Regions from separate parts of the Homo sapiens genome. Here all the other regions are linked to region 3. Evidence: fine-mapped expression QTL. A gene starts in region 3. Each other region holds a variant in brackets. All regions are shown on one strand. Distances are between the middles of the regions.

Evidence for each region. PIP is the estimated chance that this variant, and not a neighbour inherited with it, causes the effect.
Region 1: its variant is fine-mapped to the expression of CLYBL in whole blood (TOPMed, PIP above 0.99).
Region 2: its variant is fine-mapped to the expression of CLYBL in thyroid (GTEx, PIP above 0.99).
Region 4: its variant is fine-mapped to the expression of CLYBL in whole blood (TOPMed, PIP above 0.99). The same link has a PIP of 0.9 or more in skeletal muscle.
Region 5: its variant is fine-mapped to the expression of CLYBL in monocytes after interferon gamma (Fairfax 2014, PIP 0.95).
Region 6: its variant is fine-mapped to the expression of CLYBL in whole blood (TOPMed, PIP above 0.99).
Region 7: its variant is fine-mapped to the expression of CLYBL in left ventricle (GTEx, PIP above 0.99).

Annotation. Positions count from the first base shown.
Region 1 is chr13:99,633,278-99,637,344 of GRCh38, forward strand. The region is part of intron 1 of CLYBL (citramalyl-CoA lyase); the gene reads left to right. Among named protein-coding and RNA genes, the nearest start is that of MIR4306, 7.7 kb to the right of the region's middle. The variant T/C (reference allele first, on the strand shown) is at 2,020.
Region 2 is chr13:99,647,651-99,651,717 of GRCh38, forward strand. All of the region lies in intron 1 of CLYBL (citramalyl-CoA lyase), which reads left to right. Among named protein-coding and RNA genes, the nearest start is that of MIR4306, 6.6 kb to the left of the region's middle. The variant A/C (reference allele first, on the strand shown) is at 2,419.
Region 3 is chr13:99,604,995-99,609,061 of GRCh38, forward strand. CLYBL (citramalyl-CoA lyase) reads left to right here and starts at 1,696. Exons shown (of 9, transcript NM_206808.5): 1 at 1,696-1,763. The coding sequence starts at 1,702. LOC105370332 (a long non-coding RNA gene) reads right to left here and starts at 855. Exons shown (of 3, transcript XR_931674.3): 1 at 768-855. RefSeq lists enhancers at 559-1,538, 1,461-1,755 and a silencer at 1,477-2,036.
Region 4 is chr13:99,890,872-99,894,938 of GRCh38, forward strand. It overlaps CLYBL (citramalyl-CoA lyase), which reads left to right. Exons shown (of 9, transcript NM_206808.5): 8 at 447-566; 9 at 1,572-1,699. The coding sequence ends at 542. The region is part of intron 1 of CLYBL-AS3 (CLYBL antisense RNA 3); the gene reads right to left. Among named protein-coding and RNA genes, the nearest start is that of CLYBL-AS3, 64 kb to the right of the region's middle. RefSeq lists enhancers at 1,223-1,777, 1,778-2,331, 2,332-2,885, 4,066-4,067. The variant A/G (reference allele first, on the strand shown) is at 2,183.
Region 5 is chr13:99,829,503-99,833,569 of GRCh38, forward strand. All of the region lies in intron 2 of CLYBL (citramalyl-CoA lyase), which reads left to right. The region is part of intron 1 of CLYBL-AS3 (CLYBL antisense RNA 3); the gene reads right to left. Among named protein-coding and RNA genes, the nearest start is that of CLYBL-AS1, 100 kb to the left of the region's middle. The variant A/G (reference allele first, on the strand shown) is at 1,956.
Region 6 is chr13:99,655,472-99,659,538 of GRCh38, forward strand. All of the region lies in intron 1 of CLYBL (citramalyl-CoA lyase), which reads left to right. Among named protein-coding and RNA genes, the nearest start is that of MIR4306, 14 kb to the left of the region's middle. RefSeq lists enhancers at 1-841, 2,742-2,831, 2,842-2,891, 3,772-4,067. The variant G/C (reference allele first, on the strand shown) is at 2,490.
Region 7 is chr13:99,861,706-99,865,772 of GRCh38, forward strand. CLYBL (citramalyl-CoA lyase) reads left to right here. Exons shown (of 9, transcript NM_206808.5): 4 at 1,286-1,387; 5 at 3,113-3,206. The region is part of intron 1 of CLYBL-AS3 (CLYBL antisense RNA 3); the gene reads right to left. Among named protein-coding and RNA genes, the nearest start is that of CLYBL-AS3, 93 kb to the right of the region's middle. The variant TTCTTTTCTATCAAATG/T (reference allele first, on the strand shown) is at 1,750.

The DNA of each region.
Region 1 (4,067 bases), 28 kb after region 3:
GCCTGTAATCCCAGCACTTTGAGAGGCAGAAGTGGGCGGATCACTTGAGGTCAGGAGTTTGATACCAGCCTGGGCAACATGGCAAAACCCCGTCTCTACTAAAAATACAAAACTGGGCATGGTGGCACGCATCTGTAATCCCAGCTACTTGGGAGGCTGAGGCACAAAAATCGCTTGAGCCTGGGAGGTGGAGGTTGCAGTGAGCCAAGATGGCACCACTGTACTCCAGCCTGGGTGACAGTGCAGGACTCTGTCTCAAAAAAAAAAAAAAAAATAGCTATGAAAAAGAGCTGAAAGGTTAGTGGTTGCCAGAGGTTGAGGGGAGGAGGGAATGGGAAGTGATTGTTTAATGCATATGGGGTTTCCTTTTGTGTTGATGAAAGTGTTCTTGAGCTAGTGGTGAGGCTTGTACAGCACTGTGAATTTTAAACTTTAAAATGGTGAAAATTGTGAATTTTATGAAAAGAGAGGTGAAAATACATGAACTAAATAGAAATTTTTACCAGTAAGCTCAATAGCAGACAAAGTTAACTGAAAAATAGATCAATCGTATGTACTCAGTTTGAGGAAAAGAAAAAGATTGAAGAAAAGCAAATAGAGCCTCAGAGACCTGTGGGACAGTACCAAGCAGTCTAACATGTATAGTTGGAGTTCCAGAAGCAAAAAAGAGATTAGGGCAGAAAAAATATTTGAGGGGATAATGACCAGAAATGTTCCAAATTCGGTGAAATCCATTAACTCACTGATCCCTTAACAAACACTCAGCAAGATAAATTAAAACACACACATGCACATGAGAGCCACATTGCTGAAATCCAAAAATAAGAAAGTCCTGAAAGCTGCCTGAGAAAAAAAGAAGGTGCACAGAAGGAACAATAATATAACTAACAGCCGACTGCTTATCAGAAACAGTGGAGAGTAGAAGGTAAACGTATTGAAAGACAAAATATCAACCCAGGGTTCTACGTCCAGCAAAACTATCCTTCAAAATTGAAGCCCAAATAAAGACCTTTATAATTAAACAAAAACTGAGAGAATTTGTTGCAAAGAATCTGACTATGAGAAATGCTAAAGGAATTTCTTTAGGCTTAAGGGAAATAACCCCAGATGATAACTTGGATCTATAAAAAGAAATGAACCAGAAATGATGAAGAAAATAATCAGATAGATCCATCTGTGTTGATGTAAACATGTAATAGTAATAATAATAAATATTTATATAGCAATTATTTCAGGAAGGACACGCAAGAAAACTTTAACAGTGATAACCTTCCCCGTGGAAAAGGGGAAGAGATTGAGAGCTTGGAGTATGAAAAAGGAGACTAAATTATTATTTTGTGCTTCTTTTGATCATTTGAATATTTTTTAATGTGGATGTATTACTTATTTTTTTAAATAAATTTTTAAATGTCATGAAATAGCTAGGAAAAATAGAGATACTTGATACAAGATGAGAAAATAATGTTCTGTTTCTCCCTTGTAAGGAATATGACAGAAATCGAGACATTGTAGACTGGGAGTCAGGATTGGGTTTCTTTCCTACTCTGTTAGCAGGACACTGTGTCACGTGACAAAGGCTGTGAAGGAGGTATCAGATCGCGCTCTCTGGCCTTGGGCACCTTCTTTCCATTGCTAGGTCTTCTTCCCCATCCCCAGACGTCCCTGCTCATTCCCGGAGCGGCAGCTCCAGGAAGGCACATCTTGCTCTAAAATGGCCTCCTGAACACTCCTGTTCCCACACACTGTCTGGCTTAATCTTACTCCAAGGCAGGCAGCTGCAGAGGGTGCCAGGGCTGGTTCTGCTCCTGGGTTCCCATCTCGGGTGATCAGGACACCATCGTGTGCTCTGTCACCCAAGCCAGCAGCCTGAGAGTCCGCCTTTTAACTCACCTTGTTAATGACCCCAGGTACGTTTCATTAGGTCTTCGTAATGAAATGTACCTGGGGGTCATTAACAAGGTCAATTGACCCAAATCCTTCTCAAATCTGCCGCCTTTCTCTGTCATGATTTTTATAATC[T/C]GCACCACGCCCCCCACACCCCCAACCTTTTCCAGGATCAAATTGAGACTTCTCCAGTGTTTGCAGAGTGAGGTCCTGTCTTTAGCCCAGGCCTTCCTAGCCTGGCCCCTACCCAGGTCCAACCTTGTTTTCCACATGTGAGGGTCCACCCTCATCTCCCAGTGAGGTCAGGTCTGGCCATTCAGCCTCCCCTTCCACATGTTCAGCCCTCCTGGCTTTGCGCAGCTTATTGCTTTTTCCTGTGTTCCTTCCTTGTCTTCACATAGCAAATCATTCTCACCTCCAGAGATGCTGTGTCCTATGTCCTAGAAGCCTTACCTATTCCCTAGCATGCTGAACTGAGTGGTCCTGTCCCGGCCTCCCATAACTCTTGTTAATGCTCTGTCCTACTCTTGGAGAGACCATGAAGACTGGGGGAAGAGGACAGGGTTTGGAGTTGGACAGATTTGGTCTCAATTCTGGTCTTTCCATTTACTGGCTGTATGAGCTCAGGCAAGTTGTTTAATCTCCCCAGTCTCAGTTTCCTCATCTTTATGGTGACAATACTACTGCTTACTTTGCTGAGACAGATGGACTAAAGATAATATATATAAAGTGCTTGGTGTGGTTCCTATTATAGCTTTATTCTTACAACACTTTTTTAAACATTGTGTTGATTAAACATTTACTTGATTAAATGTTTTTCTCTCCCATTAGACTATACATTCTTTGAGACCAGCAGTGCTTAATGTTTGTAGAATTCAACTTTTAATGAGTTTGAATTTTAACAGAGTACATTTGCTAAGTTAAAAGAGTGATTATATTAACTTTAATTGTGGAATTTCACGTAATGTGAAATTCAAAGCTTTATATATATTTTCAGCAGAGACTCTTAAAATTATGTTTTCGAAATAACAATTTTATCTCCCCAAGCAAAATGCCACCTGCACCTTTACAAACACTTTACCGCAGTTATGTGAACCTTCATTGCTCACCCTTGCTGCAGATCATTAAATGTATGCATAAATAGAATTATTAATGTTTACCAAGGTCTTAAAGTCCTGGTAAGAAAATATTGAGTGGTCAATATAGAAAGGTCACCTGTTAGCTCCTGATGCTTGAAAACAGAGGTGGGACCTGGTGAGCCTGTCTTCAGCTGATGCAGTGCCAGCACATCTGGGCTGGGCAGGGCCTCCAGTGCCTTCTGCACAGGTTCACGTGGCCAACTCTGCTTGGACAGTGGGATCTGCTCCCTGGCAGCTGGGACACCTGCTCCCCACTGTTGAGCCATTCCTCTTGCCAGGGCTGTTTGAGTATCAGCCACTACATTCCTGGCCCCCTCCTTTTAGAGAGAGATCTCTGATTTTAAGAGGCAAGGTTTAAAGTAAGACATTTCATGTGTAGTAGCAGATATTATTAACTTTGTTGTGCACAGTATGCCTTGGATCTTCTTTTCTTGGGTAGGGTACAGATAAAATGATGGTTCTACGAGGGGTAAGTAGGAAAAATTAGTGGTTCTGGATTCTCTCCATGCCTTCACTCCATTATAGTCACAGTGGCAAGATGGAGTATTAGCAAGACAGGTCCTGAGTGTGGTTGCGGTCTAATTTAAACTTTTTTTTTTAGACTTACTCTCTCGCCCAGGTCGGAGTGCAGTGGTGCAGTCTTGGCTCACTGCATCACTGCATCCCCCAGCCAGGCTCAAGCAATTCTCATTTCTCAGCTTCCTGAGTAGCTGGGACTACAGTCATGTGCAACCATGCCTGGCTAATTTTTTTATTTTTAGTAGAGACGGGATTTCGCCATGTTGGCCAGGCTGGTCTTGAACCCCTGGTCTCAAGTGATCTGCCCGCCTCCCAAAGTGCTGGGGTTACAGGCATGAGCCACTGTGTCCAACCTAATTTAAACTTTATCTTTGTAAGTGCCAGGGTAATAGAGGCTACCCAGTTTGCCATTGTGCTCACCCAAAGATGAAAGTGCTAAGGTTGAGTGGAAGAATTCCCAATTATTAAGCCCCTCCTCTCCCTGTGTTGAAAATTCTCCATGAAAACCCATCTCTGGAGGTGTAT
Region 2 (4,067 bases), 43 kb after region 3:
AGTGTTTTTCCAAAGGGCAGAGGGCAAGAAGCATCTTAAGTCCTCTCGAAGCTGAGACACATTTCAACTGGAGATATTAGAAGCAAATTTGGTGCCCAAGACAGGTGCCAGATTTTAATTACAGTTGGCATTTCTGAGCATGCTTTTGGCAGAGGTGGCCATCTTGTTGGAAAAGCCATAGATTTTGACACTAGCAGTATGGGTGCCCAGTTGAGAACGATTGCAAATAATTTCCCTCCTATTTTCATCTTGTTGGTTGTGAGAGAAAACTTCAGTGGCTAATATTTAAACAAGATATTCTCTGTTCAGAGGAAACAGTTCATTGGAATTGTCTTGGTGGCTTGGTGTGTTGGCTCTGGGGGTAATAATTTCTATCTTAAAGTCTTTAAAACCAGTTAAAACAATAAAATAGGATATTTCATTATGAGAAATGAAGTTGGCATGCACCAGGTTTTCCATTAAGTTCCAGGTCACAGACAAATAAAGAAAGTATGTTCGGGGGGGAAAAATCCTTTTTAAAAATAATTAGGGAGCTGTCTGTTTTGTTCACCAGATGGAAAATCCGTAGTTGTGGGTGGTCTGTGTTGGAGAGGGCATCTCACAATTGGCAGGACTATGCCTTTAACTTTTCAAGTCCTCGGACAAAAATCTCAACGCCATGGACTATTCAGAAGGCTCCGAATGTTCATCAGTCCTTCCAGGTCTGCTTTTCTGAATTTTACCAGTTTTCTAACAAGAGTGTGTAAGCAAAATGATTATGGAATGCCGAAATAAATAGTCCATTGTTCGTTGAATTCTGAAACAGCATTCCTGCTAGCCCTGGTTTTTTGTGACTTTTCTTGCTGTCAATACCTTATGATGATAATCTGATTAGTGGAGCTGCCTGCGTTACTATTTAAAGGCCCCTTTTTCTTACATTTCTGTGTTCCAGAGTAGATAGGGCAGCCAGATGTGCTAACAGCATAAGAAATCATCATAAGCTTGTTATTTATTGAAGATGGATATTGCACTGTTATCAGTGTTTAGGGTCTTTTCTACACTTGCTTTGATTCTGGTCAAATTAATTCAATAAGAAAATGTACTTTTCTTACTCCTTTCTTGAACTGATAATAGAATGTTAGCTACCTAGTGTCACTAGTATTTTTTTTATCTACACATCAAGGTATCATTTTTTTCTAGCTCAGTCTTATGTTTTACATGGCTTTACATCTGCAAGTTGGACTTTGAAATGAATATTTTATGTTTGAACATAAGGATATATATATTTTTATATTTCATTCATACATTTAACCCATCCCCAAAATTTTCTTAAAAAACTTAATAATTACAGGAGATGTAAATTAATAAAATCATCTAGGATGCTAAATGCATAAACTTTCAATTGAGTGAAAAAAAGCCCTGGAACGTAAATCATTTTTCTCGGACAGCCAATGTGTTTGGCTTTGGATGTACATCAGATTCTGCCTGTGCATAGTAAAAATGGCAATGATTTATTAGTTCCATCTCCCCCCAGCACAGATGCTGCACAGTCTGTCCCTTTTCTGGGCACTAAACAGTGGGTTTTAAAAAACATAATTTCACTCAAGTTTTCCGCTTGCATTCTGTGTTGTACTATTAATAGCAACCCTTTGTTATTCATGCCAGCTCGCTTCTAGCATAAGACAATGATGTGGGGAAACGGTTTTAACTAAAATACTACTAATTGGCACCCATTTTTCATATACTGGTGCAGGTGCAGTTCTGTGAGGAATAGAAGCACCTCTAAAAATTATGTCATGAAGATAGAAAAGCTAAACAGTTACACAGTTAAGTAGGTGTACCTTTGCAATGTCATTGTTTCTTTGAAAAATCTTACTTATTTGCCGATAAGTTGAAGGGTGGGGAAAATTTGGAATATTGATGGAGGACTTATGTGTTAAATGTTCTATGAGTCCACCAGGCGCTGTGGCTCACGCCTGTAATCCCAGCACTTTGGGAGGCCAAATCACGCAGACTGCTTGAGCCGGGAGCATGAGACCAACCTGGGCAACAGAGCGAAACCCCATCTCTACAAATGATACAAAAATTAGCCACATGTAGTGGTGGGCACCTGTAGTCCCAGCTACTCAGGAGGCTGAGATGGGAGGATCACTTGAGCCCAGAAGTTGGAGTCTGCAGTAAACAGTGATCATGTGCCACTGCACTCCAGCCTGGGCAACAGAGCAACACTTTGTCTCAAAAGAAAAAAAAAAAAGTTATATGATGCTTCATGAAAAAAAAAGAAAGTTTTCAGCCTGAGCAATATAGCAAGACCTCATCCCTACAAAAAATTTTTTAAAAATCAGACTGGTAGGCCAAGCGCAGTGGCTCACACCTGTAATCCCAGCACTTTGGGAGGCCGAGGCGGGCGGATCACGAGGTCAGGAGATAGAGACCATC[A/C]TGGCTAACACGGTGAAACCCCATCTCTACTAAAAATACAAAAAATTAGCTGGGCGTGGTGGCGGGCGCCTATAGTCCCAGCTACTCGGGAGGCTGAGGCAGGAGAATGGCGTGAACCCAGGAGGTGGAGCTTGCAGTGAGCAGAGATTGCGCCACTGCACTCCAGCCTGGGCGACAGAGCCAGACTCCGTCTCAAAAAAAAAATCAGAGTGGTATGGTGGCGCACACCTGTAGTCCCAGCTACTGGGAAGGCTAAGGCAGGAGGATTGCTTGAGCCCAGGAGTTTAAGGCTACGGTGAACTATGGTTGTCCCACCGTACTCCAGCCTGGGTGACAGAATGAGACCCTGTCTCAAAAAAAGAAGTTTTCAAGAGGGGAAGAAATAAGAAGAGTGTTAGAAACCTCAGTTGCCCATCTACTTTCCTCTCCTTGCCCAGGGTGACAGAAACTGTTGCCAAATTCTCACTGGCAGCAACTTGAGTTTTGATTTGGCTCAGGTACATGTGCTCTTCTAGAGAGTAAGGTCAGCACAGAGGCTGCTGGAGGGTGCTGGAGGCTGCCTCCATGGACTCTAGCACCACCTTTCCTCGTCCTGTAGCTGAAATCCTTGGAGTCATTCTTGCCTCCACTAGACCCTTGGATTCTGTGCATCTCCACATGGCTCCCAGCCATTGTGGCTCTTTTTTTCTGGGACTCTCCTCTCTCCTGTCCATCTTCCAGAAGTAGCTTTCTGAACACAGACGTCATTGCGCTCCTCTCCACAAGCAGCAGTCACTCTCAACACTGAGGAATGAAGACCTTACAGTGTTCTTTACACCCTAACCCAAGATTACCTTCCCAGAATCATCTTCCTACCCCATGTCTCTGACCTTCCAATCACATTAAAATTCTCAGGGTGGTGAGATACTCCAGCTCCTTTCTGTCTCTGCCATGGCTCATGCTGCTGCTTCTCCCTACAGAGCCCTCCTCTCATCTTCCTTGAGATCTTGCTGACCAAATATCTTCTCTTCTGATGACTTAGCAGTCACCCACACTGCCGTGGGCCAGCAGACACCCTTCCTCTGCCTTCCAGTAGCTTTGCCCAATGTGATCTCTGCTCTTTGTACCCTGTGCTGTCTCCCATGTTAGATCCAACCACCTAGGTCATAGCGCTACTGCTGGTACCTGATTGCAGGCCCAGCATCTGTCTTGGTGCCAAGCACATGACAAGAACTGAATAAATAGGCCAGGTGAGGTGGCTCACGCCTGTAATCCCAGCACTTGGGGAAGCCAAGGCGAGTGGCCTGACGTCAGGAGTTCTAGACTAGACTGGCCAACATGGCTAAACCCCATCTCTGCTAAAAATACAAAAATTAGCTGGGCGTAGTGGCGCATGCCTGTAATCCCAGCTACTTGGGAGGCTGAGGTGGGAGAATCGCTTGAACCCAGGAGACGGAGGTTGTAGTGAGCCAAGATCACACCACTGCACTCCAGCCTGGGTGACACAGCGAGACCCCGTCTCAAAAAAGAATTGAATAAATATTTTTTGAGTGAAATGGAATTCTGGGTTGTGGCTTTCCATCAGTTAAGATTCTTGGTTGTGGCCAGGTGCAGTGGCTCACGCCTGTAATCCCAACACTTTGGGAGGGAGAGGTGGGTGGATCATGAGG
Region 3 (4,067 bases):
CCAGAATCAGACTTGAGTGAGGTGAGTGCAGCCCCAGCCTGGGATGCAAAATTTAAGGAGAAGTCTCAGTAATTACTGCACTCCAGCCTGGGCGACAGAGCGAGACTCCATCTCAGAAAAAAAAAAAAAAAAAAAGATAAGTAATATTGGCCTGGCATGGTGGCTCATGCCTGTAAGCCCAGCACTTTGGGAGGCTGACGCGGATGGATCACTTGAGGCCACGAGTTCGAGACCAGCCTAGCCAACATGGTGAAACCCTATCTCTACTAAAAATACAAAACAATTAGTTGGAAGTGGTGGCACTTGCCTGTAGTCCCAGCTACTCAGGAGGCTGAGGGGTGAGAATCACTCAAGCCTAGGAGGTGGAGGTTACAGTGTGTGAGCTGAGATCGTGCCACTGCACTACAGCCTGGGCGACAGAGCAAGACTGTCTCAAAAAAAAAAAAAAAGTAATATTCTAAACTAAAAACCAAGATAATGGAAAAATCCCATTATGAACAAAATATCAAAATTTTAATTAAAGACAGGATTGGTGTTACTGAAATTGCCTTTGCCTCAGGCTTCAGTATGGCTGGACCGGGCACTGGCTGGGACTAAGGTGGTGACAAGAAAGTGACCAAATTGGAGTAGACAGGCGAGGCCTGAGGTGGAGCAGGCGTGGGAGCTGGGGGAGGGCACCAAGGGGTTGAGCAGTCTCCCCTGTTGGTATCGAATATAACAATAATTCTTAGGCTCAGCAGAAGTTTAGCATCCATGTTCCCAGTCACCTGGACTTTTCCAAATCTTGGAACCCCCTCTGGCTGAAAAGGCTTTTGTTTGTTTAAACGGCCACTTTTTGCATCCAAGAGCACAAGTCAGCTTCCACTGGAAGGTTCTGAGAAACGGTTTCAGGTTTAAGTCTAGAGCATGAATGGAACGGAGTCACAGCTGAAAAAGAAACATGCCGAGTGCCAAGGAAAAGACATGGTTAAGGGGTAACATGGGCCCGGGTAGGTGAAGGTCGGCAGGTGGAGGCCGGCTGGATCAGGGAAGGTGAAAGAAGAGGCAGGGGCAGGGCCCAGCCTGTTTTAACGCCTCGGCGTTCTCACCGCTGCAGAACGGCTGCAGGGGGCAGAGTAAAGAGCTGCTGTCAGTTTCCCTGCCCAGAGAGTGCCAACAGCTGCTCTGACCTATTGCAGGCATGTGTGTTCCAGGATGCAGCCTTCCTGCACTTTGACCACTCTAGATTAATTGCTAACCAAGATATGCACATGATGGGGCTCACAAAGTATTAGGCGGTATTTTAACAACAAAAGCTGCGAAGAAATCCCTAGAAATGTTGGCTCTTCTGGCTGGGAAAACGCAGTCTGTCAACAGTTGCCTCAAAAACTCAGAAGCTCAGAGAGTTGGATTCGGTCACCAGAGAGGCCCCTCAAAGAGGCCCCAACCATTCAGATCCTCTGCTCTGTCCCCCATGACAGCGGGGACGAAGGTCCTAAGCCCTGGCCGGGAGGGCAGTTGACCTCGGGACTCGCCGCGGGGCGGAGCGGGTGCTGGGAGGAAGGAGGGCGTGGCTGGCGGGGTGTGGCTGGCGGGACGGGGCGGGGCGAAGACAGAGCGAGGCGGGGCCTGGGACGGGGGGGGGGTCGGTGTCGCCGTGGGGGCGTGGAATGTGGGGTGGGCGTGGCTAAAGGCAAAGGGCGGGGCGCGCGCGTCGGGAAGATGGCGCTACGTCTGCTGCGGAGGGCGGCGCGCGGAGCTGCGGCGGCGGCGCTGCTGAGGCTGTGAGTGCAGGTCCCCGTTCCCCGCCTTCCCGGCCCGGCTCGCCGCGGGTCGGCTCCTGTTGCAGCCCCGCGGGCCGGGCGCGGCCTCCCCAAGCCCTCACGGGAACCCAGCCGGACGGAAGCACCATGCGCCTCCCACGCGCTGGCTCGACCTCGTCCAAGGTCGCTGCCGCCCGCGCCTCCCTTTGGGAGGGCCCTCGTTGCACCCGGAAAATGGGTACACACCTTAGGTCGAATTACCTGGACTCAGCCCCAGGAAACAAAACTGCCTGCCTCCCCCAAATGGCAAACGTGAACGCGCCAGTCTTTGAGAGGCGGCTTGCCTGGTGAAGAACACCTGCGGTTCGTTTAACACAGCGGTTCCCAAACGGTTTGGTCTCAGGACCCGTTTACACGTCTAAAAATAATTTGAGGACCCCCCAAAGCTTTTGCTTATATCTATTGATTTTTGTGCATGAGGAATTAAACCAGAAATTTAAAAAATATTCACTTAATAACAAACCCATTAACTTTTAATACAAATAACACTTTAATGCATAACTTCTCAAAAAAAAAGTGAGAAGATTGGCTCATGGTTTTTATATTTTTGAAAATTTCTTTGGTTTAATAAAGGACAGCTGGAGTCTCATATCAGCTGTTTTGAAGGAAATATTTGAAAGAAATTCTGGGCTCATGCAGATGCAGATATTAGTTGGGAAAGGGAGGACCAAGCAGACCCTCTCAACGGGTCTCAGGGACCCCCTCAGGTGTCTTTGGACCACACTTTGAGAACCGCTGGTCTAGCACTTGCCCATCGCCTAGGTACGTGCACATACATGGTCTCATTTGGTTCCCTTGACCACCATGTGAAGAAGTTGGGTGTCATGTTTATAAAGATGAAAAAACAGGGTCAGAAAGGTTAAGGATTCTCAAAGCCCTATGACCAGTAATGAGAGAGTTTGGTTCAAACACTAAGTGTATGGCTCCTGGTCTGGAACTTCTTTATTTATTTATTTTTATTTTTTGAGACAGAGTCTCGGTCTGTCACCTAGGCTGTAGTACAGTGGTGTAATCTCGGCTTACTGCAACCTCCACCTCCTGGGTTCAAGCGATTCTCATGCCTCAGCCTCCTGAGTGGCTGGCATTACAGGTGTGCACCACCACCCCTGGCTAATTTTTGTATTTTTAGTAGAGACAGAGTTTCGCCATGTTGGCCAGGCTGTTCTCGAACTCCTGACCTCAAGGGGGTCCACCCGGATCAGCCTCCCAAAGTGCTGGGATTACAGGCGTGAGCCACCATGGCCGGCCTGGTGGTCTGGAACTTCTTTTTTTTTTTTTTTTTTTTTTTTTCCGAGATGGAGTTTCGCTTTTGTCGCCCAGGCTGGAGTGCAATGGCGCCATCTCAGCTGACTGCAACCTCCGCCTCCCGGATTCAAGTGATTCTCCTGCCGCAGCCTCCGGAGTAGTTGGGATTACAGGGCGTCCGCCACCATGCCCGGCTAATTTTTGTATTTTTAATAGAGACGAGGTTTCACCATGTTGGCCAGGCTGGTCTGGAGCTCCTGACCTCGGGTGATCCACCTGCCTCGGCCTCCCAAAGTGTTGGGATTAAAGGCGTGAGCCACCGTGCCCGGCCTGGGTCTGAACTTCTTACGTCTTCTTGCACTGTGACTCTTCAGTCACCCATGTCCTATGGGAGGACCCACCTAGTCTTATGCATCCCACTTTCCCATTTCCTCCGCTGCCCCTGGCACAGGGGAGTCACCCCTCGCCCTAGAGGAGCAGCTCAGGCAGTGTATCCAGGCTGGTCCAGAAGGGTCCTTTTCTGGCGCCTTTTGAGGGGGCCAGCGTCTGTGACCTGTTCAGTAGCGGGTCCAGTGAGCGCACACAGTCCCCACGCCAGTACGCTGGGGGTTAACTCAGTGCTCCTCACCCGCCTTAGCACACTGGTCTGTTCTCGACATGTCTACCCGCTGAATATAGGATTCTTGATTGGCATTTTTTTTCCTTTGAGCATTTTAAAGCGTATTATCGCACTGTCTTTTTGCCTCCATTATTCTAATGAGAATTCAGACGTTAATGTTATTAGGGTTCTATGTAAGTGATGAGTCTTTTTTTTTTTTTTTTTTTTTTTTTTTTTGCTTGATTTTCTCTTTGTCTTGGTCTTTCGGTGGTTTTATTATGATGTGTGTAGATCTGTTTGAGTTTATCCTCTTGGAAGTTTATTGAGTTTCTTGGATGTGTATACATCAAATTTGGGAAGTTTTTGGCTATTGTTCTCTCAAAAAAGTCTACTCTCTTATCTCTCTCTTCTCTTTCGGAGGC
Region 4 (4,067 bases), 290 kb after region 3:
ACCTCTCAATTATGTTACAGCAAGGAGGTAAGATTTTGCCATTAGCCTGATGGTACAATTTTTTAAAACAATAATCAGTTGCCAGAATATATTCTTGCTTTTAAAGTTCTACATAATATTTCAAAAATATATAGGGAAGTATTTAGATTTTCCTTCCACAGCTGTTTTCTGCTTGATTTCAAGAGTTAACTGAACAGTTTGCTGTCTTGTGTCCAATGTGTTTCTCCTCTCCATTAAAATGCTGAAGATTTTTATTTTTTTCCCCTCTTTAGGGGGAAAAAAGAAGTGTTTCCTCTGTAATTTACTTTGGCTTTCTCAAAAGTTGGGCGGGAAAGTCAGTATAATTCAGGTGGAATCTAAAATGTTCTTGTTGCACAAGTGTGCACAGAAAGGAAACCTATAATTTCGAGTATTCTTTCAGGAAGTTTGTATTCTCTGTTTTCCAGGGGGCCTTTACTTTCCAAGGGAGTATGATCGACATGCCATTACTGAAGCAGGCCCAGAACACTGTTACGCTTGCCACCTCCATCAAGGAAAAATGATCTGTTAAATGAAGCTGTCATCAGGTGGGCTGAACATATACAGTGGGGTTCTTAAAGACAAACCACAATACTCAAAGCAACTTGTTAGGATGCCAGATTGGGACCTGACTCCATTTACAGTTCATGTTAATCACAATTTTGTTGTTGTTGTCTCACTGGCCAGTTATTCCCCTAAAAAAATGAACGCTTTTCCCTTTGGATCCAAGCTTATGATTTTATCATTTTTAGTGTATTACGAATATGGGCTTATGATTTCACAGGGAGGTAAGATCCTGGGGAAAGATGGGCTGTGAGGCGAAGGTAGGTCTTTAATGAAATGGATCTTTCCCAAATAGACATATTCCCTCCACCCTTCTCATGTTAGTAAATGTTTCCTGCTTGTTCATTTATACAGCTGACACCACAAATAATTTTAAGAAAAGCCAGGCCTTTAAAACATAGTAGCAACATTAAGGGGTCATCTCTATTTCACTAGTAATCTGATAAAACAACAGAGATGGCATCAAAAAAGAATACTAAGTATTATATTGGCTTAAAAAGACACTTTCTGAAAATAAACTTTCGAAACTGGTTACTATTAACCTCCACCCCTAAAACGAAACATCCATCTCCTTGAACCGCTAGACGATGAACACGAAAGCTGTCATCCTGGGTGAATGCTGTGAGTCAACCATTACCGGCAATTAAAAAATAAATGTGCAGAAACACAAGACCATCCATTCTCCCCCTTTATTTTCCCGTTTAACTGTTTGCCATTGAGGCTATTTCCCCCTGGAAATGTATGGCTGGGACAGGACTCCCTCAGTCATAAACTTGTAGCGTCTCAGAAGACACAATGCACCCGAGCTGGTGCATGTGGCCCCTGCGAGATTTGCATCACATTAGAGATGCGGCTGCAGGTCAGATGGGTGGTGTGGTTAACGGGCTTAGTAAAGCTGTTTTGAAGAGGTTAACCCAGCTTGTAGTAAGGGTAAATAAACATAACAACCAGCCATTGTTCCCTATTCAGCATGTACTCTTATATTGAAGGCTAAAGGGTATTGAAGCTGCAGAGGGATCAACTTGTGCTTGCCAGAGGACGCCAATGAAGTTTGAAACACCAACAATCAGAGATTTTGTTTCTGTTCCTCATTAAATCATGAGCTTTTGTGCCGAGACTCTGGACGACTGTTCCTTAAGAAATTAACAGAATGGGAAGTTTTAAACTCTACACCAACCTTTTCATGACCTACACAGCAGCAACGCTGCTACTCTTAGACAAACACCGCGGGGAAGGCTGTTCTGTTTATTTAAATTTGTAAATAGAAAACAGTTGTTTTTTACTTTCATTTTTCACCTCCTCCTACGCCCTTTTGGATTATTTCCTCTGCGGCCCCTAGCATGAGCCCCAACCAGGCCTCCCCTTTTCCCCACTTCTCTCAATTCCCACAGGAAGCCCGAGAGGTGAGGAGCTGAGGTTAGACACCAGGAGAGGCACCATCACACAAAAGCGCGGCCGCAGAGTCCCACCGCCACCAGGCGACCCCCACCCAGAGAGGGACAGACATGCGGGGAGCCAGCACCGGGCAAGATGGCTCTGGGGATCCTCATTCTGTGAAGACACCAACTCATTTCTCAAACACAGGATCCAGGAGACAGAT[A/G]GCTCCTAAATGGAGATGGCACATGCTCCGTGGGGTCCCTCATAGAGGAGTGCCACCCTCCACACTGGCCACGCTGGGCTGCCCCAGAGCGGCCAGAAAGGAAGGTGGGAGCTAGCCCCATCCTCACTCAGAGGCCGGAAGGAGGAAGATGGCATCTCGCCAACTTCAGAGCCGAATGGCCTCTAGCCACACTGCTTCCAGACCCCAGACGGGGCAGCAGCAGCAGTTCCCAGAGGAGCACCCATTGTTGCAGCTAGGACCCACCAAGGATGGGACTCCTGGAGTCAGGTGCACACCAGGTAACCCAGGACCACGCTGTGCACCCCCAGTCTGCCCCTCTGCTCAGAACACAGAGGGATGGGAGGATGGCTTGGCAGTGGGAAGGCAAAAGAAGGCCTCTCTCACTCTGCCCCTGCCATACGCACCCGCTGAGGGTGTTAGAAGCAGTGGAGGCAGAGCTGGCCCTAAGCAAAAGAAGAAAATAAACCTCACCTTGTCCTTCCTATGGGCAGCCCTCACCCCAATCTAACTAACCTTCCCATCCTCCAGCCTAATCCAAAGAAGCCCTTGGCTTGAGGGGATGAAGGGCTTGCGTTCTAGTCTCCACCCCAGCCCCACAGGCAGCCAGCCAGCCAGCCCCACACAGAGGGGCCTCCTCAAGGCCTCACTGGGAGCCTCCTGTCCCCAGCCAAGGAGCCCTACAGACCTGGGGAAAAGCAGGCCCCTCCGCAAGGCCCCTGGGTGGTGCGGAGGCCGGACCGGCTAGGCCTCCCGCTGCTGGCCACTCCCAGGCCACGGGTTCCTAGGTCCCAACCACATTGGACTGCTCGCCACGCCACTGCCCTCATCCCAAACTGCTTTGTTCAAACAAAACCACCTTGTTTCAGTCTCCCCAAATGTCCAGTTCATTATCTTCCTCATAACCCATGGTCCCTATTAGGGTAGGATCATGAGACTAAGACCTATGAGAGCCACAAATCTGGACCAAAGTCCCATTCCCTGAACAGAGACCCAAACGACGAGGGTCCCAGAAGAGAGTTCAGTCCTGATCAGAAACCCATGGTGCCTTAGTCCTTGAAGAACAAAACTCTAGGAAGAAGATGCTGGAAGGCAAAGGGTATTCCCCCTCTTTCCCCACCCGCGTCTCTGTGGTGCCATGGGTGGGCCCAGGTACCCTGGGAAAGGTGGGAGAGCAGTCAAGGGTGGGTGTGTGATCTCCACTGGGCTCACTGGGCACCCCCGACACGGGGAAGTGAGAGCTGCCCGACTCCTGAGCCAGGCGTGGGTGACAGGAAGAGGACCTTGCAGCTAATCTGATTCATTAGAAACCATACCTGTTTATGTTTTGTGTAGCTCATCACAAGCCGCTTAGCCATATCACCCCCGTTATTAATTCTTGGGGTCTAAATTATGGGTAACACTATTAAAACATTATCAGAACTAATGAGAAACAATTACTTAGAAAATGAGCCGGGACAAGACTGAGTTGGGAACATCAGTGGTGATCACTGTAGATTAGTTTAATAAATCATCAGGTGCAAGGCAAGACTGACTGTATGTATGCAAAGCCCCGTCACGGGAAAATGAAATTGAGATTTTTTTTTTTTGCATAATTTTTTCATTAATCTCAATAGGACCCGTGTGGTGTAGATTGCTTTATTCCCCTAATACCTTGCCTGAGGCGGGGGGGGGGGGGGGTGCCCAATAATGTCTTCATTGTTTTACTGAGGTCTTAATGACAATCTGTGACAACCTCATTTTAATGTATAGAGGATTATATCAATACAGTCATGTTTTATTGAAATGGTGAAGGGAACTCCAGTCAGAGTCAGGCAGTGTCTGTGAGCACAAGTTAGGAAGTTTCTCGGCATCCGGGAGCGTTCCC
Region 5 (4,067 bases), 220 kb after region 3:
TGGGCAATGATGAGTTTTAATAAAAGCAGGGTTGTTGTTGTTGTTGTCATTACTGATCTTGGGTTTCTGGTTTATCTTAGAATTGAGCACTAGAAAGGAAGTGAGGAGAATTATTTTCTAGACCAATAGGTGCTTTTGACTCAAATGATGACATTGGACACTTCTAGGAACCTTTAAAGTAGGGACATTAGCTCCAGTTACGTCACCTTTCCTCTAAGGGTACAGTGAAGGATCAGGAGCTGAACAAGCTGACCTCAGTCCCAATCAACTCCGAAATGTGACAGCTGATTAGAGCCTTGCAGCCTTTCAGGTACTGTTTAATCATTTACTCGCTTGAGTGTATAAGCTCCGTGAGAGCGGAGAGCCTGTCTGCCCATAGCACACACTCAGGAAATATTGTTGAATATGATCATTGGGTTGATGGTCTCACGGGGTGGCACCAAGGGGGCCAGCATGTCAAGCGTAATTCACACCGGAGCAAGCTTTGGGTCACATTCTGAATCATATGTGATGTAGTGAACAAGCTCTCGGATGGGCTTCAGGGGATGTGCGTTCAAGTCCTGGCTCTCCCCCCGGCATCAGAGTGACCTTCAGTCATTTGTTGATCTCTCTCTCGGACTTTTGTCTCCTTGTTTCTAAAATGACTAGATAATTGTAGAGCTTTCTTCAGCCCTAAAATTCTGTGATTCTGAAACTCAGCCAGTCATCTAAAAATGCATTTTCTGCATGATGAAAGATATTTATTAGGCCTAAGTGGAAGAGCCAGCATTCTTGATGAAAAGAATTACTCTATGCACACATCCTAAGGACAGTGGTTTAGATCAGTGCCCTCCTGGTAGAGATGAACAACACAACGGGAAGGACAGGCACTGACGCACATAAAGATGAGGAGGCTGAGCGTGGTTCCAGGCACCACTGCGGTATAGAAAGTGGCACCTAGAGCCAGCCAAGGACATAAAGATGGACTTGGAGACACTGGAGCAGTGTGGGTGCCCCTCAGCCCAGGAATGTTGCAGAGAGGAGTCATATGTGAGATTAGGGTTGCCCCAAGTTACCTCTAAGTTCTGTCCAACTCAACTACTCTGTGAGTCTGTGACAGTCCCTAGCTCTGTGTCCTAGGACACAGTGACACCCCTAGAGATCTTACCAAAGACCTCAAATAGTCCAGGCACTGTTCCTCTTAAGGGATGTAGAGAGGAGAGGGAGAGATGGAAAAGGGAGAACTCACCTTTGTTAACATACTGCTTTCTAATAACTCTTTTAAAGAAGTGTTCATTCCATTGTTCATGGAATATGCTTCCAGTCGTGGATTGCATTGAAAAGATAAGTCCATGTCCTAATCCCTGGGACCTGTGAATGTGACCTTATTTGGAAAAATGGTCTTTGCCGATGAAGTTAAGGATCTCGAGAAAAGACCATCATGGATTATCTGGGTGGGCCCAAAATCCAATGACAAGTGTCTTTTTAAGAGAAATCAGAGACACACAGAGGAGAAGACAGACACAGAAGAGAAGTCAGACACAGAAGAGAAGTCAGACACAGAGGAGAAGACAGACACAGAGGAGAAGGGCACATGAAGGAAGAGGCAGGGGTTGGGTGGCGGCAGCTGCAGGGACTGCCAGCAGCCAGCAGGAGCTGCAGGAGGCAAGGAGGATCCGCTAGAGAGGGACTGCGCCCTGCACACACCTCAAGTCCACATTTCTGGGCTCCAGAACTATGAAAGAATACATTTTTGTTGTTTTAAGCTGCCAATTTTATGGTCATTTGTTATGGTGGCCCTAAGAAACTAATACACCTCAGATATATTATCATTGATACCATTAATCAGGAGCTGCAAGGTCTCTTTTCCTAATTAACATCATGGTTGTTCTTACTAATAATAAGAATAAAAGAACTCTCAGGGAGGCAGGTGGAGGGAGAGCATCAGGATAAATAGCTAATGCATGCTGGGCCTA[A/G]TACCTAGGTGATGGGTTGATAGGTGCGGCAAACCACCTTGGCACATGTTTACCTATGCAACAAACCTGCACATATATCCCGGAACTTAAAATAAAATTTAAAAAATGAACAAATAAATAAATAAATAAAATAACTCTATCTTAAAACACATTAACAATATTATTGAAGAATAATATTAGATCTTTTGAAGTAAGCATTTTTTTTTGCCCGTGTAATAGCTGTCTGTAAATACCCGCTTCTTGAGTGAACCACCATTTTCTTTCTTTTTTTTTTTTTTGTAGAAGGAAACACACGCTACCAGAAAAAAAGGGGCCCCATTTTGATATCCCTCCATCCCTGGCCTTGTTTTGGTAACTTTGTTTCTGTACCAGATCCACACTCAATCAACCTGTCTGGTTTAGGGTATTTTTAGCTTCATAGAGCAATAGTATCAATACAATTCTGCTGTTTTATTATACATTTATCAAACAGTTCACTATCTGGTCTTTTGGCCAGAATTTCTTGGCCTCTTCTCAGAGCTCTGTCTCAATAGATCTTTTGATAACTGTTTTCCAACACAGTCTTCATTTCAATGTTAGAATATGATGTTAATGAATTTACTAGCTTCCAGTCGAGGATGAATAGCTTACAGTGTTTGCGGCAATATTGGATGTATTTATTTCCAAGGGAATGATTTTTAACAGCACATTGTGTTCTTATTTGCTTTTCACAATCCAGTTCCAGCATCTGAGAAACTTTGCTTTGATGGTTGACTCCCATTAGGGAAACACTGAAAACAATTATCCTGTAGTGGTCTCGGTTCTTCCTGGCAGCTTTGCATTTCCATGGTGCGAGACCACTGGGTCGTACCACTTGTTTCTCCCTCCACGTCCTCAAATGATCTCTTAAAAGAACCCACTTTAGACCTCATTGTTACCTTCCCTCTACTTCTTTTTCTTCTTATTGAATTCAATTCAACAACATGTATTAAATACTTACAACCTGGTACCCAGGTAGAAGAAGCCAACGTATAGACAGGGCATGTCATTGGATAGTGATAAGATCTGATGGGGTGAGTATCTAGGCAACTTAGACTGGGTGTGGGGTTGAACCAGCATATTTAAATTTATGTAAAAACTGAGAAACACCCTGAAAAGGACTTTTATTGTTGGACATAATTCTCTAGTCCTGAAGTTATCATTCAAGGGAGTTCAAGAACTCATCCCTTAAGTGGACTGGGCAAGCTGGCCATTTACCACTTGTCACAGTTAGAATTAGGAACTTGGCTTTCATATTATCCATTGGTGTCACAGAGTGGGAGGAAAACATCAGTAATGGATCCATAGGACCACCAGTGGAGGCAAATTGAATTTGGGATATGTTATATCAAATCTGTTAAAGGGAAAAAAAAGAAAGAAAAGGAGGGGAGAGAAGGAAGAAAAGAAAAAATAAAAGAAAAAAACCCAAAAGAATTCATTATATAACCATTATATGTTAATGGTACAGTTTAAGAGATTTTGAAGTATTGTCATATATCATTTCATTAAGTAGTATATACATACATACATACATATATATATATATATATATATATTTTTTTTTTTTTTTTTTTTTTTTTTTTGAGATGGAGTTTCGCTCTTTTTGCCCAGGCTGGAGTACAATGGCACGATCTTAGCTCACTGCAACCTCCACCTCCCAGGTTCAAGCGATTCTCCTGCCTCAGCCTCCCAAGTAGCTGGGATTACAGGCACCTGCCACCACACCTGGCTAATTTTTTGTATTTTTAGTAGAGACGGGGTTTCACCATGTTGGCCAGGATGGTCTCGATCTCTTGACTTCATGATCCAGCTACCTCAGCCTTCCAAAGTGCTGGGATTACAGGCATGAGCCACTGTGCCCGGCCAGTAGTTTATATTTTTATTCCACCAATTCTTATTCTTAAAGGAAAGAAGGATTAAATAAGCCCTAAATGTTATATTACATTAGAATCTTTGAATTGCTGCCATAGCTACATAATGGTGTGGAAAGTAGTAAACCCATTTTTCCCAACTTATGGGAAAGTACAAACTAAAAATGAGTGAATGAATTAATGCATAAATAAGTCATTAGAACTCTGCCATCAGAGTCCTCCA
Region 6 (4,067 bases), 50 kb after region 3:
CTAGTTGCTGGGACAGAAATGCAAGTCAGTGGGCTCTGGCCTTTCTCCCAGGCTGTGTTGCCACCTTGGTGGCTGGAGGGGCGCTACTAGGGGGTGTGCTTGGCAGAGCCTGGGGTGGCGTCCTCTTTCATCCCACTAAATAACACATTGGTGGCTTGATCTGCCATGAAGCTGACAATCAGAGCAAGTATTTGAAGCCTGGGAAGCTGTGTGGGCCTTGCTTGTGGGACCTGGTGTCAGCTGATGACGTGGCCCTGTCTGGGTGCCCGTGAGTCAGATGGCAGGGATGGCCTGACATCATGAACACTAGCTCCACCTACGTCACATTGGACTTGACTCTTTACAGAGCACCTAGGAAGAGATATTGATGAGTGAACCATTGCCCAGTCATCGAGTTAATTATTTCCCCCCAGAAAGGTTAACATACTGAGGACAGAGAGGGCATGTGTAGGCGGCAGGGCGCACTTTTCATTTAGTCTGGTTCGCAGGTGCGGTCAAGACGATTCCTTATTGTCTTGGAGCCAGCCCTTTTAAGCCTTCCTGCACAGCTCTGTGACAGTCTCGCGGGGAGACCTGTGAGGCCACTTTCCTTTTTTCCAGACCCACCCCCACCTTTGAGATTATCACTCTTCCTGCTTTGTTTTCTGAGGCTTTTTGGCTTTTTAGTTTATTTGTAATTAGAGCAGAAAAGGTACAGTAATCGGATAGAAGGGTTGGGAGTGATAGAATGAGCCAGGATGCGGTGGAGAAATGGGGTGGAGAACCCCCAGACCTTAGGGTGGCGTGTTTGTCAGGGAGTAGACCAGGGTGCAGTTCTAGGCAGACCACTAGATGGCACTCACACATTGGTGTTCAGTCGGGTCCACGGCACTTTCCACTTTGGGCTTCTGTAAAATCTCCCCATGAACTAGCCAAAGCTTTGTATCTGTCATCCCGCCATTTGTCCCTCTAACCTCTCTTGATCGTCTACAGATAGGTATATATATATGTTCCTCTCTAGTTCATTTTTCTCTTAACATTTAGTGACCTTAAAAACCTGGCAGAAATACCTTCAAAGCCTCCCACCTTGTTAGCTGCATTGCCGCATTTTTACTGTTCTCCTAAGCCAATGTTTACATGGCAGTAAATCCATGTTTAGAGTAGGTAATAGAGAAACCTGTTTCTCTCTCAGTCACTCTGAGGGTATGTTTGATAAAGAAATGGAAATTGAGAGGATGAGTTATTAAAAGGATTAATAGGTAACAAATTTTTTTAAAATTTCCATTCAAAATTATGGGTTGGTAAATTGTAAGATACTTAAAATTAATGAGTTGTTTTATCAAATCATTTTCTGTTGTTAGAGAATTTTCAGCAAGCTGAGATTCAAATGCAAAATGTCTTATTGCATACTGCTGGCTCTAGGAAGGAGGAGGGACAGACAGGAAATCATGGTTGATGTTATCTTTACCAAGGTGCATGTGGTGTGAAAGCAAAACCCCATCTTAAATTCATCATCCGTTCTGATGTTGCACAGAAATGAAAATTAATTTCTATATGTCAACTAAAATGGATTCTGCTCCTGCCTGGTTCAATTCTGTCTTAGCTGCGTGGACATCTTGGGGAGCTGCTCTGATGGTACATGCAGACGTGCTTCATCTGTGCACTTCTTAGCTGAGATAACAGTGCTCCGAGCCCCACTGTTAAGGTTAACCTGTATACTGCAGAAGGACAACAGATGGAAATTCTGGTTTGCAGCCACTGCAGAAAAATAAAAACATGTTCCAAAGGGAAAAGGATCTTGTATTTCTGCGTTTGAACCTTTGATCCGCATTCACATCTGAAGGGAGGGCTAAACCTTTTGGTGGAGACACATGGCTTTGCATCTGTGAAAACACAGCTGTATAGAGCAAAACAAAACTAGTGGAAAATACAATGGTTTTGCTGTGTCAGGCTCACCGCTAATGCTTGAATTCTATATAAATATTGTCTTTTGATAGTTCTTTCAAAAATCTTTCTTGACTTTCCATATAATTGTCCAATAATGTTATTCTTTTAAATTCAGATTTGGGGCTTTTTAGGATTAAGGCACAAATGTCTCTTTTCTTTTAAAAAGGCAGTAAAATAAACAGATTGTAGTTAGATCATAATAACATCTAAATTTTGACCTAATTAGAGGGGGAGATGGGGAAAAAAACTCTTTAAAAGAAGATTAAGGTAAAGTTCTAACTTTATCCTTGATTCTGAATTTTTTTTCTTTTTTGGAAATATTGCATACATTTTATACTGCAAGTTACAATGTGAAGGGCCTTTGAAGCACTCTAAAGAGACTTAGCTGCTTTGTTTTGAGCAATTAAGGTTTGTTATTGAGTGAATTAAGCAGCTCTGCTGTGGCTCATCTGTAAATAGTGGTCTTCAGCGAGTTTCTTGATCCGCTTTTCCCAGGAACAGAAGCCAAGTCGGCTTCCTTAGGAGCTGCTCGCCCTGAGTCTCCATGTTTCCTCGCAGTCCGG[G/C]GCAGAACCCAAGCCCGTGCCTTCCTCGCCCTGCCTTCGGAGTTTCCTGCTATTGACCTGGCGGGGCGCGCCAGCCCTCCCTGCCCGCTGGTGCCGCGGTCCCTCTCGGCTGCAGCAGTGGGGCACAGGGACGTCATGGACAAAAGACGAGGATGCCAGTTCGATGTGCGAGCAGAAGGCCGCCTGCGTGCGCTCTGCAGAGCAACCGGCCCGGTTTCATAAGGGGCCGCCGGCAGGGGACTGCCATGGCGCCCCCTCCTACCCTTTTTGGCACCAGCAGCTTCATCCGCAGGCCCACTCGGGGTGAATAGTGTGGGAGCTCTCAAGAGAAAGAATTTTAGGTTTGTCGATAGTAATCACCACCTTCAGCGCTCCTCCCACTGCTGGAGAGACCGCGGACTGGGTGACAAGTCTTCCAGGCTCCCAGAAAGTTTCTGCTGCAAAGCGCAGGGTCCGCCTCCCACTTCCAGGAGGGACCAGGAGGGAACCATCGCGAAACCCCGAGGCTGCCGGGGACTCTGACTGAGGCCTTTCCTCCTGTGTCCCTCTCCCCCACGCCGGCCTCCCCTCCTTTCAACTCTCTGCGCTTTGAAACCGCGGAGTTGGGGTAGCTAGGCCCTCCAGCCCGGCGACAGGCCTCGGCCACAGGCAGCGGGGCGGGGTGTGGACAGGAACAAGGAGGTGGGGTGGGGAGGAAGCCTCGGGCAGAGCAGGTTCTCTGCGGAGTTTCGGCAGCCGGGTTTATCCATTTTGATTAAAGAAAAGTAAAAAAAATCCCCCAAAACCAAACAACAAAAACCCTCTCCCAACCCCCAACCCGCCTCCACAGCTGCATTTTGTTCCTGGGACTGTTGGTGTCACCAGAGCCTCTTTTTTTATGCAATCCTAGACTCCATTGCAAAGGACTTGTAAAGCCTATTAATTTTTCAGGCAAAACAGATCAAGCCTGCCTTTGATGCTGCTGTTTCCTAATTTAGTATTCAAAGGTAAAGAATCCTACTACCGTCTCTTCACTTTTTACATAATTAAAAGAGATTTTTCCCCCAGGGGCAAAGAACTAGTTGCTTAGTATTTTTTGAAGTGAAAGGTCTAACTTTATATCACATCTGTTTTTATGCTCTTTCCTAAACATAACCAATATTTACTCTTTGCTGGTACTTAGTTGCATGCTATTCACCCTTGCATTTTAATTTCTGACAGAGAGGGGATTAGTATTCCTCTTCTAAATCATCCTCTAAGCTATGTGTGTGTGTGTGTATATATATATATGTATATATATGCGTGTGTGTGTGTATTTCTCCTCTAACAAACTGAGAGTGCAATTTAAAAAACTGTAGAATCAGTGATTGCCCTAACTTGTGCATGACTCTTGATTTCACACAGGAGCATTCAAAAGTTCCGTTAAGTGGGCTTTCACAGGTTTCCATCTGCTGTGTTTAATAGCAAATTGCGACCCTTCAAACCACTTCAAGGCCTTTTGTGTTCTTATCTGTGCATTTCAATACTTGCTGGGGAAGTGCCTTCAGTTTCACTACATATGCAAAAAGCCAGGCTTGAATTTTTTGACACCCCCTTTTC
Region 7 (4,067 bases), 260 kb after region 3:
AGCTGTGATTTATTTTAGCCTAATTGTAAAGTTACTGCAAATTGCTCAAAAGCTTTTTAAAGATCCCAGTGATTAGATTTTTTAGGGGGGTGGTGCACCGGCAAGGAGGGGGCAGCTAGAAGGGGAAATAACACCTCTAATCCCGCTTCTGGTAAATAGGCTGCCAGCTTTTCAAATGAGTTTCCTTTCTATTAGTCAGAATATTATGCTAAGCCTTAAGCATTAGTTTTTTTATGTTGCCATAGCAGCCTTATTCCTGCAGGGTGGTGACCTGTGATGATTACAGTACAAAGCTTATAGGGTCTTGAAACCCCCTTTGAAGATGAAAAGTCTTTGATGGTTTATATTTATGCAAATCTCTTAGATATGATTTACCCAACTGAGACTGAATGGAGAGATGATTAAAATTCCCTTTTCCTTTGATATCTATTAATGGCTGAATATTCCTTAAATTTAAAATGGATATATATGTTTTCATCTTTATTTACAAAAATACCTTTATCATACCTGTGTTTCTTCTCTATCTATCTCCCCACATCTTATTAGATCTAGATAGACATAATAGATTTACAATTTAGAGTGTGTTTTTTTCCCCCTTTTGAAGAGGGGGAGGAATCTGGGCAAGAGCTTTTGTATGTTTCCAGATGATAGATTTTGGAATTTGGGCTACCCCACTGGCAGCACAGAGCTAGCTGTGAACTGGTCTCATGGAAAAAATTGGCGAGCTTTGGTCTTCAAAGAATTAAACTTCCTTTTTAAGGTCTTCCTAGGTAAGCTAAAAAATTATGAAGAAAAACCTTCTGAACAAAGGGTAATGGTGCTATAATGAATAATATGGACTCCACGTAGAAGGCTGCTGAACAGTTGCACTGATGTCAGTGCTGGGCACGAAACAAAAACAGAATGGCAGGTAGAGGAAGAGTTCATTGTTTTAAGGGCCTACCATTTGCATTTAACGAAGCGAGGGCAAGAGGTCTTAAGTAAATGCGTTTTCAGGGAAAGCGTTTATACTCTCTCCTTCCAGTTCTAACTCCTAGGCCTCAAGTTGCTCCTTTGGGAGAAAAAAATTGTAATGCTTAGGATTTTACTATTTAGTTTGGTGGGAACTTCATTACCTTTTTCTTTGGACTTTCTTCTTATTTTTTTAAAAAAATTCTTTTGTGTGGACGAAAGAGGCTTGGATATTACTTCCTCAGGTCAAAGACTTAAATACTACTTCTGGGTCTACATTTCCGTGATTGTACATTTTTTCCCCACTAATCACCTATGACACTTCTGATTTTAGTTTGCAGACAAATTTTCATTCCACTTAAAAGGCCGAAAACTTGAACAACCAATGAATTTAATCCCTTTTGTGGAAACTGCAATGGGTTTGCTCAATTTTAAGGTAAGGAAGCCATAATACGGTTAATAAGTTAGCATTTTATTTATCACCTAAAGAGAACTTTTGCTTTCAATTTTAACATCTTCTTAAAATGTGTTTCTAGAAAGATTTATAAGCAAAGGAAATGTTGAGCACCATTTGTTATCTGTAATAGTCCAAAAACCAGGTTGCCAGCATCTTAGAAAACAATGAAATCAGTTAGGTAGAAGGAAAAGCTTCCCAGTCCAAAATATTTAAATGAAGCATTTGTATATTCCTAGTAACAATTTTAACTAATCACTGTGTAATTATATGCTTTGAATTATTGCATTTATAGACTAAATGTACATGAAAATTTGTCACCCTTATGAATTAACTTTGAAATG[TTCTTTTCTATCAAATG/T]TCTTTTCAGTGGGAAATGTTCTGCCCTCTCTGTAGCAACATTATCAGTAATGTCTAGCAGAGAAGATTATTGTTTGTAAGTTCATGCACACAAATAATTTGCAGTACAGTTTTTCAGTTTGCCACATTAGAATATCTTCTAATATACATGCGGGAATATTGGCTGAGCCAAGTGTTTTCAGCCGTTGTGTGGTTGCACTAAACTACCGGTCTTAACAAATTCAGAGCTAGCTCGTTTTTTCTCGTTTATCAGGGGGCATTTATATTATTTTCCAAAATATGCCTCTCATTCCACCTGACCTGCGAACATCAATCTAGCACCCCCTTTCAGAGTTCCTAGATTCCCTTCCCCCACCCCAGCCCCCACAGAGGGCAGGAGAAAAGAAATCACTAAAAACAACAGAAAAAACATAGTCGAACTGTACTGGAGAGAGAATGTGTGAGCGGCAACTTTGAGGCCTTGGGATGTGCAGAAGGGGTCGAGTGCAAATGTTTGGGGACCTGCTTCAAACCTTGTCCTGTGAGCAGCTTGTTTACACAACTAACCATACATTCTTCCAGCCAGCCCCAGAATCCTGAGAATATAATCAAAAGCATATCCCTAAGATGCAACCAGATTCATCCAGTGATTTAATTTTAAGCACTGCTTCGCCATTTTATTCCATAATGTACTTAGAAGCACTTACAATGTCTGAAATTAATCAACAGTGTCCCCACCGGTTCCTCGTTTCTTTCCCACCCACGTATATTATTAGCAGGTTATATCTCCACCTTTCAAGATTCACGGTTATGTCTACGACGAATGGTATTTGCCTTGACTTTCATATATAAATGTCGAAGTTGCTTTATGAACACATCTTGGATGACTTGTTGCATTTTTATTTTCCCCTCCGGAGTTGCAGGTTTTTGTGCTGTCTTTAATCCTGAGACCATGTGCTTGATCCTAATGCAAATAATTCAATTAGTTTGATTTTAAAATTCCTTCCTTCTCCCCTGTGGTTTTACGAGAGTCTCTTAAAGCAAAAACGAATTCTGGAAAGATATAAATAACTTATAGTGCAAGCAAAATGAGTTAACTCAAAGTTTCTCCAAAAATGAGATGAACTACAATTTGAACATTATAACTATATTCATATAATCCATTAAACAAAGCAAATATATACAATATACTTATCTTGGATGATATTAAATACCTTTTGAAAGGGGTAAATTTGGGCTGCGTTTTTAGGACTGCTTTCAGCCAAACTGTGTTAAGAGTCAGGTCGTCCTGTTACTGAAATGCACCGTGCCTCTTCCCTCTGACGCACGCGTTTCCGTGAGACTTAGTTCTGTTCTGCTCTTTTACAGGCAGTGTGTGAAGAAACCCTGAAGGTCGGGCCTCAAGTAGGTCTCTTTCTAGATGCAGTCGTTTTTGGAGGAGAAGACTTTCGAGCCAGCATAGGTGTCAAAGACATCTCTCTCTCTCTTTTTCTGTGTGTGTGTGTGTATATGTGTGTATATATTTTTTCTTTGCCCCTCAAGGATGGACATTTACATAACAATGTATATTTGCCAACCATGACAATGGTTTTTCATGACAATGGAATGGACACTACTTCCTGATAATTTAGGGCTCCTCATAGCTGCCCTGCTTCTAGAGCACTGCATTATTACTTCTGTTCATTTATAAAAGACACGAGCAATAGAAAGCCTGTTGCAGCCCCAGGCATGCTCAGGAATATATGGCATCTCCTTTGCTCCTAATAAATATATTATGTGAACAGCCTCACCGTTGCTTCAGTATTTTGTTTTCATATCAGTCTGTGGGCTGTCTAGATTTCTAACGCAAATTTAAGGCAATTTCACATTTGCCTTAATGAATTGTTTTCTACAGAATATGCGGTAGGTAAATATTATTTTAAATGGATCTTAAATTTCTCTTACAATATGTTTCGAACTCTTAGTATTAAATGTGCTGATTTTCACCGATTCTCACCATCCCTTGTGAGCTGCACTTGAGGGGTCTGCATGTTTGACTGGAGACCGTGAAGCATTTAGAAAAGAGGCCGAGGCCACAGAAACCAGCCCCAGTGACCTGAAGACAGGCACTTTCCCTAGGCAGGGAGTGGCATGTTCCAAATGTAAACAGGGACACTTCCCTCCCCTCAGGGTGAAAAAACTGAATTTATTTGAATACGAGTCTTTCCAGGAGACTTGTGTATCCAACGGTTCAGCGGGCTACAGAAGGCATATCGATGCTTTCCAGCCCTCTCAAAACAAGTGCCCTCCCGTCTCCCCAAGTTCTCCATCCAGACAGACCCTG